Homo sapiens: one gene and its partner. The protein of the gene in region 2 purifies or fractionates together with the protein of the main gene of each other region. This does not show direct contact. Each region holds a gene or a part of one and is shown on either strand. Other genes may lie near its edges.

What was found.
Region 1: the proteins of ZNF780A (region 2) and ANKRD17 purify together in Homo sapiens (affinity purification with mass spectrometry; one large-scale study listed by BioGRID and IntAct). This does not show direct contact.

What each region holds. Positions count from the first base shown.
Region 1 is NC_000004.12:73,077,299-73,081,787, forward strand, and holds part of ANKRD17 (ankyrin repeat domain-containing protein 17), read right to left. Parts: intron 1,593-4,489; coding exon 1,344-1,592; intron 236-1,343; coding exon 57-235; intron 1-56.
Region 2 is NC_000019.10:40,083,488-40,088,966, forward strand, and holds part of ZNF780A (zinc finger protein 780A), read right to left. Parts: intron 1,312-5,479; coding exon of another isoform or gene 1,267-1,311; coding exon 1,258-1,266; intron 1-1,257.

The DNA of each region.
Region 1 (4,489 bases), on a different chromosome or scaffold from region 2:
AAACATTTTCTCAGAAAATCCTCCCTTAAATAACTAGTACAAAATCAGGACTTTACCCCAACTTTAGGAAAGTCCATGTAGCCTGCAGGAACATGCTGATGGAATGTACCAGAAGGAGTTACAATTCCTGTACTATCTCGCTCCATTGCTTGATGTTGTGAAAATACTCCTGGGTCAGACATCGGTCTGTGGATCATAGGATTTCCCATCCCAGGGTTACACCAGTCTACTTTGTCTGAGGGCAAACAAAGAGGCAAAACAAAAATAGATAATATTTAAAATCAAAATCAAATATTTTGTTTTTCTAATATTTTCCACATTGAACCGTAAATTATTTCAATATAATGACCTACTTTTATATATTTACAGCAATATTTCCATGGTTTGTAAGTAGTGACATAATAGCTTAATGAAATAATCTAAAAACTTGGTGTTATAAAACAAAAGAAAAAAACCTAAGTACAACCTAAAGGGACTGAAAGGAAATATTATTATGTCCTTAATATGATGAAAGGAAGAAAAGAACATGCTTGCATTAGATATTTTCTGAAAGCAGTAATAAATACATGTAATGAGAAAGGTCACATGGGGACAGAGCTCATAAAGAAGTGATTAAATATTCACATAACAAAAAAAATAGGAATACAGATCTTTTAGAAATGACTACGAGGCTGGGCGTGGTGGCTCATGCCTGTAATGCCAGCACTTTGGGAGGCTGAGGTGGGTGAGTCACTTGAAGTCAGGAGTTTGATACCAGCCTGATCAACATGGTGAAACCCTGTCTCTACTAAAAATACAGGCGGGGCACAGTGGCTCACGCCTGTAATCCCAGCACTTTGGGAGACCGAGGCGGGCGGATCACAAGGTCAGGAGATCGTGACCATCCTGGCTAACACGGTGAAACCCCGTCTCTACTAAAAATACAAAAATTAGCCGGGCGTGGTGGCGGGCGCCTGTAGTCTCAGCTACTTGGGAGGATGAGGCAGGAGAATGGCATGAACCCGGGAGGCGGAGCTTGCAGTGAGCAGAGATTGTGCCGCTGCAGTCCGGCCTGGGTTACAGAGCGAGACTCCGTCTCAAAAAAAAAAAATTAGCTGGGCATGGTGGCGCATGCCTGTAATCCCAGCTACTTGGGAGGCTGTGGCAGGAGAATCGCTTGAACCGGGGAGGTGGAGGTTGCAGTGAACCAAGATCACCCCATTGCACTCCAGCCTGAGCAACAAGTGAAACTCCATCTCAAAAAAAGAAAAAAAAAAAGGAAATGACTATTAAAGTTAAATACTGTTTACATTATAGTTAAATGCATTAAGTTAATTTCTAGAGAGCAGGACAGAATATCCTACCTTGATTGCCACCAATCCCTTCAAAGGACCAGATGCCACTATGTCCTACTGATGTAGACAAATTGCTCCCAATAACAGATGGAGCTGACGTTCCAGTTTGCCTGATACGTGCAGAACGTTCAGTCCCAATAGGGACTGGAACTTTCCTGTCCTGAGACACATTGCTGGGCTTTTCTGACCCTAACGGTACTGATGATGGGGCAGGAGATGGTGCACGAACTCCCGAGGATACTGACTGTGCAGAAGAATCTAGAGAAGAGATATTTTGAAATAAAATACAGGTCATCTATAGAACATGTAATTTTATAAAACCAAATCTTAAAACCAGGAGATGTTTTAAATATATATTCTCAGAAAAACAAAGTGTAAAAATAATACTTAAAAATGATGCATATTAAAATTTGGCTAAAGTTCCATGACTTCAAGGTAGAATATGATGTCAATGCTGCAAAATGTTCAACTACAAAGGTAATAAACCATTAAATTAAATAATATTCAAATGAATTAACCCTTGACATTAAGTAAAATGTAGCAAGCAATAAGACATTTAAATTAAAAAACAAACCAACAACAACAGAATGGAGATGGGTAAGAATCACTGCCTGTAGTGGCAATCTCCAAACTGTATTCCCTGGGAATACTTGCTCTTTGTGTTATGATGAAAAAGAGATTCAGCTATCTAATAAATTTGGAAAACCTAGCCTAGGAAAAAGAAATACGTTTCTTTGTTATTTATTCATTTTTTATTTATTTTATTTATGTATTTTTGGAGACAGAGTCTTGCTCCATTGTCCAGGCTAGAGTGCAGAGGCTCGATCATAACTCACTGCAGCCTCAAACTCTTGGGCTCAAGCGATCCTCCCACCCCAACCTCCTGAACAGCTGGGACTACTGGGATGAGCCATCATGTCCAGTTTAAAAAAAAAAAGTTTCTTCAAATTAGAACTGAAGTTTATAGAACATTATATATACTGATAAAATACCAATAAGAGGATCATTGCCTAAGTCTGTTTTATTTTATCTTGTGAGTACTTCACAGAACATGCTTTTGGTAATGAGAATCTTTTTTACTTATGCAAACAAGGTGGATTTCTTGATTTGAGACTATTCATTAGTGATTCAATCTCTATACATTATTGAGAAAAAACAAAAATAACCAAAATTATATTTTATGTGAAAAGCTTAAATATTGGCCGGGCGCGGTGGCACACACCTGTAATCACAGCACTTTGGGAGGCCAAGGCGGGCGGATCATGGGATCAGGAGTTCGAGGGGCCAATATGGTGATACCCTGTCTCTACTAAAAATACAAAAATTAGCCGGGCGTGGTGGCACGCGCCTGTAGTCCCAGCTACTCAGGAGGCTGAGGCAGACGAATCACTTGAACCCGGGAGGCGGAGGATGCAGTGAGCCGAGATCGTGTCACTGCACTCCAGCCTGGGTGACAGAGCAAGATGACTCCATCCCCCCTCCCCCTCCCAAAAAAGCTTAAATATTAAAGCACATTTAAACTAAAATGGTATAAATAATAAAGGAGTCTGAAGCTTAAAAATCAAAACTGTTACCTGCAGATTCAACAGAACTGCAGTTGAATTCCAAATAAGCCTATTATATAAGATAAAAGAGAAAGACCTATAGCATTCCTGTTGACAATAAAAGCACTCCAGAAAAAAAGCTATAACCTAAAATTCAAAAATGAACGAAAAGAAAATGATATGAAGGAACAGCATAATTCAGAATTAGTAAAACGGAAACAATATGACAAAACTCAGGAAAGTGTTAGAAGTAAAAGAATATTTTAGCTAAAGACCAAATAAAACCAAATTCTGCAATTATACATGCAGTAGAAAACAGACAAAAACTACAAGGAATACACAGACATGTAAATGTAAACACAAAGATAAATAACAAAAGCTTGTTTTTTAAAAACCTACATATTGAAAGGCCACACCTAAACCTCTAGGAAAAATCAACCCAGAACAACTAACATCAAGACATAGTCAGGGCAGGCAGGCAGGAAGGAAAGAAGGATAAACAAATGAATCCTGCTTTCCCCTAGGTTCATCCCTGGGAGCCTACCTTAACCTCTGTGTTCACTCTGGTTTCCCTTTTATTTCCTGTATCCTTCTAGAACCAAAGTAGAGCAAAATAACAACAACCTTCCACATTGTTTTGTTTTTTATGAGACGGTCTCACTATGATGCCCACACTGAAGTACAGTGACTATTCACAGGCACAATCACAGTGCACTGCAGCCTCAAACTCCTGGCCTCAAGCCATCCTCCCACCTCAGCCTCCTACACATTCTATTTTAATAAACAGAATTACTAGGCTTGCCCGCTGAGCTGCGCCATTTAAGAAGTTTACTCTCTGCACAGATTCTGCCACCCCTCTAGTCATAGTTTTTATCAGATGACCCTGTTTTCTGCTCCCTCTCTGCACAACTATTGGATTAAGGATAGGCACCCATCCAAGTTTTATTTTAGGCTAGTCAGTAATCTGACTGAAATGGTCTGACTTGAACATATGAGCTGAGCCAATCACATTCCTCATCAAAGAATGGGGAATTAAAGGGTTAACTGGTTTAATTAATTATGAAGTTGAACCACTGATGTGCATATACAAGGTAAGATTATGAAGAAGTTTAGGTGTAAAGAGAGCAGAATGCAAGAAACTGACAAGAAACAGACCATGAGTGAGAGACCACAAATCCTCTAAGAGAGAGAGAGAGAGAGAATAGCTATCCCTAAGTCCTGGACGGTTTGGAAAATGGTTCTGCATAGCCTTATATAAACATCATTTTCCATGAGAGTCCCTGGATGGGCCTATATTCCTTTTCATGAAAAGAACCTAACTAAAATAATTTTCACATCTCTAATTATTATAATTACTTCAATTAGAAAAAAAGCAAAATTTAATTCAGAGCCATGTTATTTAAAAACATCAGCTTATATATTAGAGAAACAGGTTTCAGAGGATGGGGCAGATCTAGGTTTTGTGGGGCCTTAAACTTACAAAATTTTGGGAACCTTTTTTAGAAGAATGAAAAATTACAAATAAAAAAATCATGTACAGCACTTGGAAGTACCCCATAAAATGAAGTGGCCTAAGGATTTAAGTTTCACTGATACCACGGTAACTTCACC
Region 2 (5,479 bases):
TATCCCATCTCTGCAAAAATTAAATAAGTAACTGTGTGTGGTATCACGTACCTGTAGTCCCAGCTACTCGGGAGGCTGAGGTAGGAGTATTGCTTGAGCCCAGGAGTTCAAGGCTATAGTGAACTGTGATCACGCCACTGCACTCCAGCCTGGGCCACAGAGCAAGACTCTGTCTCAGAGAAAAAAAAAAAAAAAAAAAAAGGTGGCATACAATTAAAGAATGTTCTTAATCCTCAAGTTCATTATGGTATGAGATGACAGCAAAAGTATTTTTTCTTGTCATGACAACTGATTTTTATAAGCTGCATTAAAGTCAATAGAACTCACATATTAGATTTATTCATTTTTTTTCTATTTATACGTTGAGGATGGCCAGGGCCTCTAAGGATTTCCCCAATTCTGAGAATTTTTTATTTTTTATTTTTTTTCTGAGACAGAATTTCACTCTGTTACCCAGGCTGGAGTGCAGTGGCACGATCGCAGCTCACTGCAACCTCCACCTCCCAGGTTCAAGCGATTCTCCTGCCTCAGCCTCCTGTGCAGCTGGGATTACAGGTGCGCACCACCACAACAGGCTAATTTTTTTTTTTCTTTTTTTAGAAGAGATGGGGTTTCACCATGTTGGCCAGGCTGGTCTCAAACTCCTGACCTCAAGTGATCCACCACCCACCTCGGCCTCCCAAAGTGCTGGGATTGCACGCGTGAGCCACCATGTCCAGCCAGAGAATCTGTAATCACCTATCATTCATGCCCTGAATTATCTTCTCCCTGCTACTGCCCACTGTCCTCACCTATCATTTTCCTAAAAGCCTCATAAAGCAGATCACCTTGTCACACTTGCAGACTGAGGCTACTCACTATGGAATTCTACCTTAGCTACCTGGAAAGCTCTAGTCTGTAAAGTTTCAAAGTGTTCCCAAGTGTGGTCAATCATCTGTAACTTATCAAACCCATAAGACCCTGTTTCCCTGTGGGGACTGATTCCTCCACTGTTCCAATATTCTTCCTGACCAAGGTCTGAGCACAGAGCACAGACTGAATAACTTTTTCAAAGAAAACATCAAAGCCAGTAGGAAACAGAGGTACAAATAGGAAGAGCAGTGACTTTTTTTTTTTTTGTCACCAACCTTCACTGTAATGGGACAAACTGGGGTGTAAGATCGTGAATTCTAGGTACGAAGCTTCAGGTTAAATAATAACAGTCACCTAACCTGAAAGTCACCATATTTCAAGGAAAAGAGAGAAATACAAACTTACATGGACCATGTTGCTAGAATTACAAAACTGGTCAATCTTCCTCGGGCTTCTCCCCTGGAAAACAACAACAACAAAAAGGCCACAATTAAAGCTGTGTCTCAAAAGCAAATAACTATTTTATCCTCCGTTCCTATTTCTCAACTACTCCTGCTAACACGCACACTTCCACCCTTCTCCCATCACTCCCCTTGCCCCCACACACACTCTCTCACAAATAGCTGGCAGTGAACGGGTGGAGTAGGGATGAAACCAAGCTCTCGCCTGCATCCCAGGGAACCTGCGGCAGAAGCATGAATGCCGAGCACAGGCATTTCTGCCTTGAAGTTGTGGCTTCCAGCCAGTCCTCCATTCTTGGGATACCTATCTTGGCCTAGGTCTGGACCTCTGATCCTGCCCTTAGCAGATCCTCCTCCCCCAGTCCCACCTTTCAGAGCTGAGAAGGGATTGCATCATCCAAACCAGAACCTCTTTGTGAAATCAGGATTGGGTGCAGTGGGGGAAGGCATGAGAACTGGAAAGCATATTTGCACTGGCAGTGTTTGCACCAAATTGCACTGACAGTGTTCAGCATTCTAAATTCAGCAAAAGCCAGTTGGTTAATACAGTTCAGAACATCCACTTAATAGAATACAAAGTAAATATTAAACGTTCAAGATATATGATTAACAGAAAAATCAGGTTACAAAACAGGATAGATAATATGATTACATTTGTAAAATATATGTATATAGAAATACTAATAAAAAGACTAACAGACATTAATAGAAAAAAATTTAGAAAATTATATACATGTTAAGAGTTCTCCTCTGTGTATTGTAGCTCCAATTTTCTTCTTTTTGCTTAAGAGCATTTCATGGCCGGGCACGGTGGCTCACACTTGTAATCCCAGCACTTTGGGAGGCTGAGGCAGGCAGATCACGAGGTCAGGAGATCGAGACCAACCTGGCCAACATGGTGATACCTCGTCTCTACTAAAAATACAAAAATTAGCTGGGTGTGGTGGTGCATGCCTATAATCCCAGCTACTCAGGAGGCTGAGGCATGAGAATCGCTTGAACCCAGGAGGCGGAGGTTGCAGTAAGCTGAGATCGTGCCACTGCACTCCAGCCTGGCAACAGAGCGAGCCTTCATATAAAAAAAAATTGTAACTACATCCAAGCATTAACTTGGAATATATATAGTTATATTCACACACACACACACGTGTGTGTATATATATATGTGTGTGTGTATATATATATTTATATATATATATGTGTGTGTGTGTGTGTATGCATCTCTATATATGGACATATATAAATGTACATACACATTTCTTTCCTATGAGGAAACTTCTCCAAATTAGATGAAAGACACTTTTTATTTAGATATCTCCCTTTGAACTTGGGGTGGGAAATCAGCATACTCTAATGAACTGTTGTTTTTACTTAACAAGTTTGTTTCCTTTATTTTCCAATTCTTGACCAACACTAAGATGTCTATGTTTTTCTATGTATGTTGGAGCAATCTCTAGAAAAAATTGTCTACAAGTCCCCAACCAATGTCTTGTATGCATTAATGATAGTCTATTTCTACTTTTGAAGTAAAAAATAAAAACAGAGTTATCAGGAAAAAAACCTGAGCCTGTCACGAGATTCAACAAAAGAGGTTAAAGTGACTACAACAAATAACATCAGCTAGTTCTAATATCCTTTAGCTGTATCTCACCAATATAATTAGATATTCTCATTATCAAGATTCTTCTTTGAATGAACACAATGCAGATAAGTGGCATTTGCAAACTATGTGAGAAAATTTGTGAAATATACACCACCATGCTTGGTTCCCTTCTTCACCAAATAACCAATTAAAATATTATTTTAGATATAATTCTTATAGAATGCCTTCAGATAGAATTCTTATAGAATTCTTATACAAAAACCCTATCTTAGTATATGGGATTCATATAAAACATAACAATTTCTTTTTGGGGGGCAGGGGTGGAGTCTCACTCTGTCACCCAGGCTGGAGTGCTGTGGCCTGATCTCGGCTCACTGCAACCTCAGCCTCCCAGGTTCAAACAATTCTCCTGCCTCAGCCTCCTGAGTAGCTGGGATTATAGGCGCCTGCCACCACTCCCGGCTAGTTTTTATATTTTTAGTAGAGACAAGGTTTCACCACGTTGGCAAGGCTGGTCTCAAACTCCTGACCTCAAATGATCTGCCTGCCTCAGCCTCCTAAAGTGCTGGGATTTCAGGTGTGAGCCACCGCGCCCCGCCCCATGTAACATTTTCTTGAGTATTATTGTTCATAGCATGAATATTGCTTAATGATATATCAAATATTTTTCTTTTCATAATTCCTTATAGACATCATTTTATTACCTGTGTAATACTCTATCACTTGAGTCTAGTATGATTAGCTTAATGATTTCTGTATTATAGGACACTTATTTTATACAAGATCATTTACAATGTCATTCCAGATATCACAATCTTTTGATTCTGGACTACAGTTTTTCACCCTAGGCACTACTGACATATTGTGCTGGATAATTCTTAGATGGGAGAGTGGGGAGAGCTATCCTGTGCATAACACAATGTTTAGCAGCATTCCTGACCTCTATCCATTAGATCTAAGTAGCACCCTCCCCGACAGCATGACAACCGAAAGTTTCTAAACATCACCCCAGCTGAGAACCAATGTTCTATCTAGATCAATGGATCCAAACCTCATGGGTCACATAAATTTTTTTGATAATCTTATGAAATGATACACTATTTCTCCCCCTAAAACCCACATTTATAAATTTCTATAATACTTCAATATTTTATTTCAAGAGCTTTTGGTCCCTGAGACCATAAATGGAGTCACAGGAACTCAGGTTAAGAATTTCTGTCCTACATTCCTTACAGAAACAGGAAAAAAACAAAAATGCTAAAATTTGTATAGAACCACAAAAGACCCAAATAGCCAAAGCAATCTTGAGCAAAAGGAACAAAGTTGGACTCATCAAAACTATCTGACTTCAAGATATACTACAAAGCTATAGTAACCAAAACAACAAGGTACTGACATAAAAACAGACACATAGACCAAAGAAACAGAATAGAGAGGCCCAGAATAAATCCATATATTTATAACCAACCGAGTTTTGAGGAGGGTACCAAGAACATACAATGGGGAAAAGAGAGACTCTTCAAAAAATACTGTTGTGAAAAGTAGGTATCCATATGCAGAAAAATGAAATTAGACCCTTATCTCAAACCATTATACAAACATCAACTCTAAACAGATTAAAGACTTAAATGTAAGATCCTAAACTATGAAACAAATAGAAGAAAACATAGGGGGAAAGCTCTGTGAAACTGATCTGAGCAATGATTTTTTTTGGGATATGACCTCAAAAGCACAGGTAACAAAAGCAAAAATGAACGAATGAAATTATGTCAAGCTAAAAAGCTTCTGCACAGAAAAGGAAACAATCAACAAAGTGAAGAGACATCTTGTAGAATGAGAGAAAATATTTGCAACCATATATATGATAAGAGATTAAGATCCAAAATGTATGCAGAAGTCAAACAACTCAACAGCAAAAAAAAACCTGATTAAAAGATGGGCAAAGGACCTGAACAGGCACATCCCAAAAGAAGACATATAAATGGCCAACAGTTTATGAAAAAATACTCAACATCACTAATCATCAGGGAAATGAAAATTAAACCCGCAATAAGATATTAGCTCATACCTGTTAGGGTGGCTACTGGAAAGACAAATGTTAACAAGTATTGGCAAGAAAAGGGGAACGCTTACACACTGTGGGTGAGAATGTAAATGGGCACAGCCATTATGGAAAACAGTATGGAGGTTCCTCAAAAAATTAGAAATAGAACTACCATATGATCCAGCCATCCCACTACTGGGAATATATCTCCAAAGGAAATGAAATCTGTATGTCAAAGAGATATCAGCATACCCATGTTTATTGCAGCATTATTCACAATAGCCAAGATATGGCATCAACCTACGCGTCTAACAATGAATAAATGGATAAAGAAAATGTGGTATATATGCAGGTATATTTACACAAGGGAATACTATTTAGCCATAAAAAGCAGGAAATTCTGTCATTTGCAAAAACATGGATGAACCTGGAGAACATCATATTAAGTGAAGTAAGCCAAGCACAGAAAGACATATGATCTCACTCTTCAGCCAAATCTAAAAAAGTTGATATCATAGA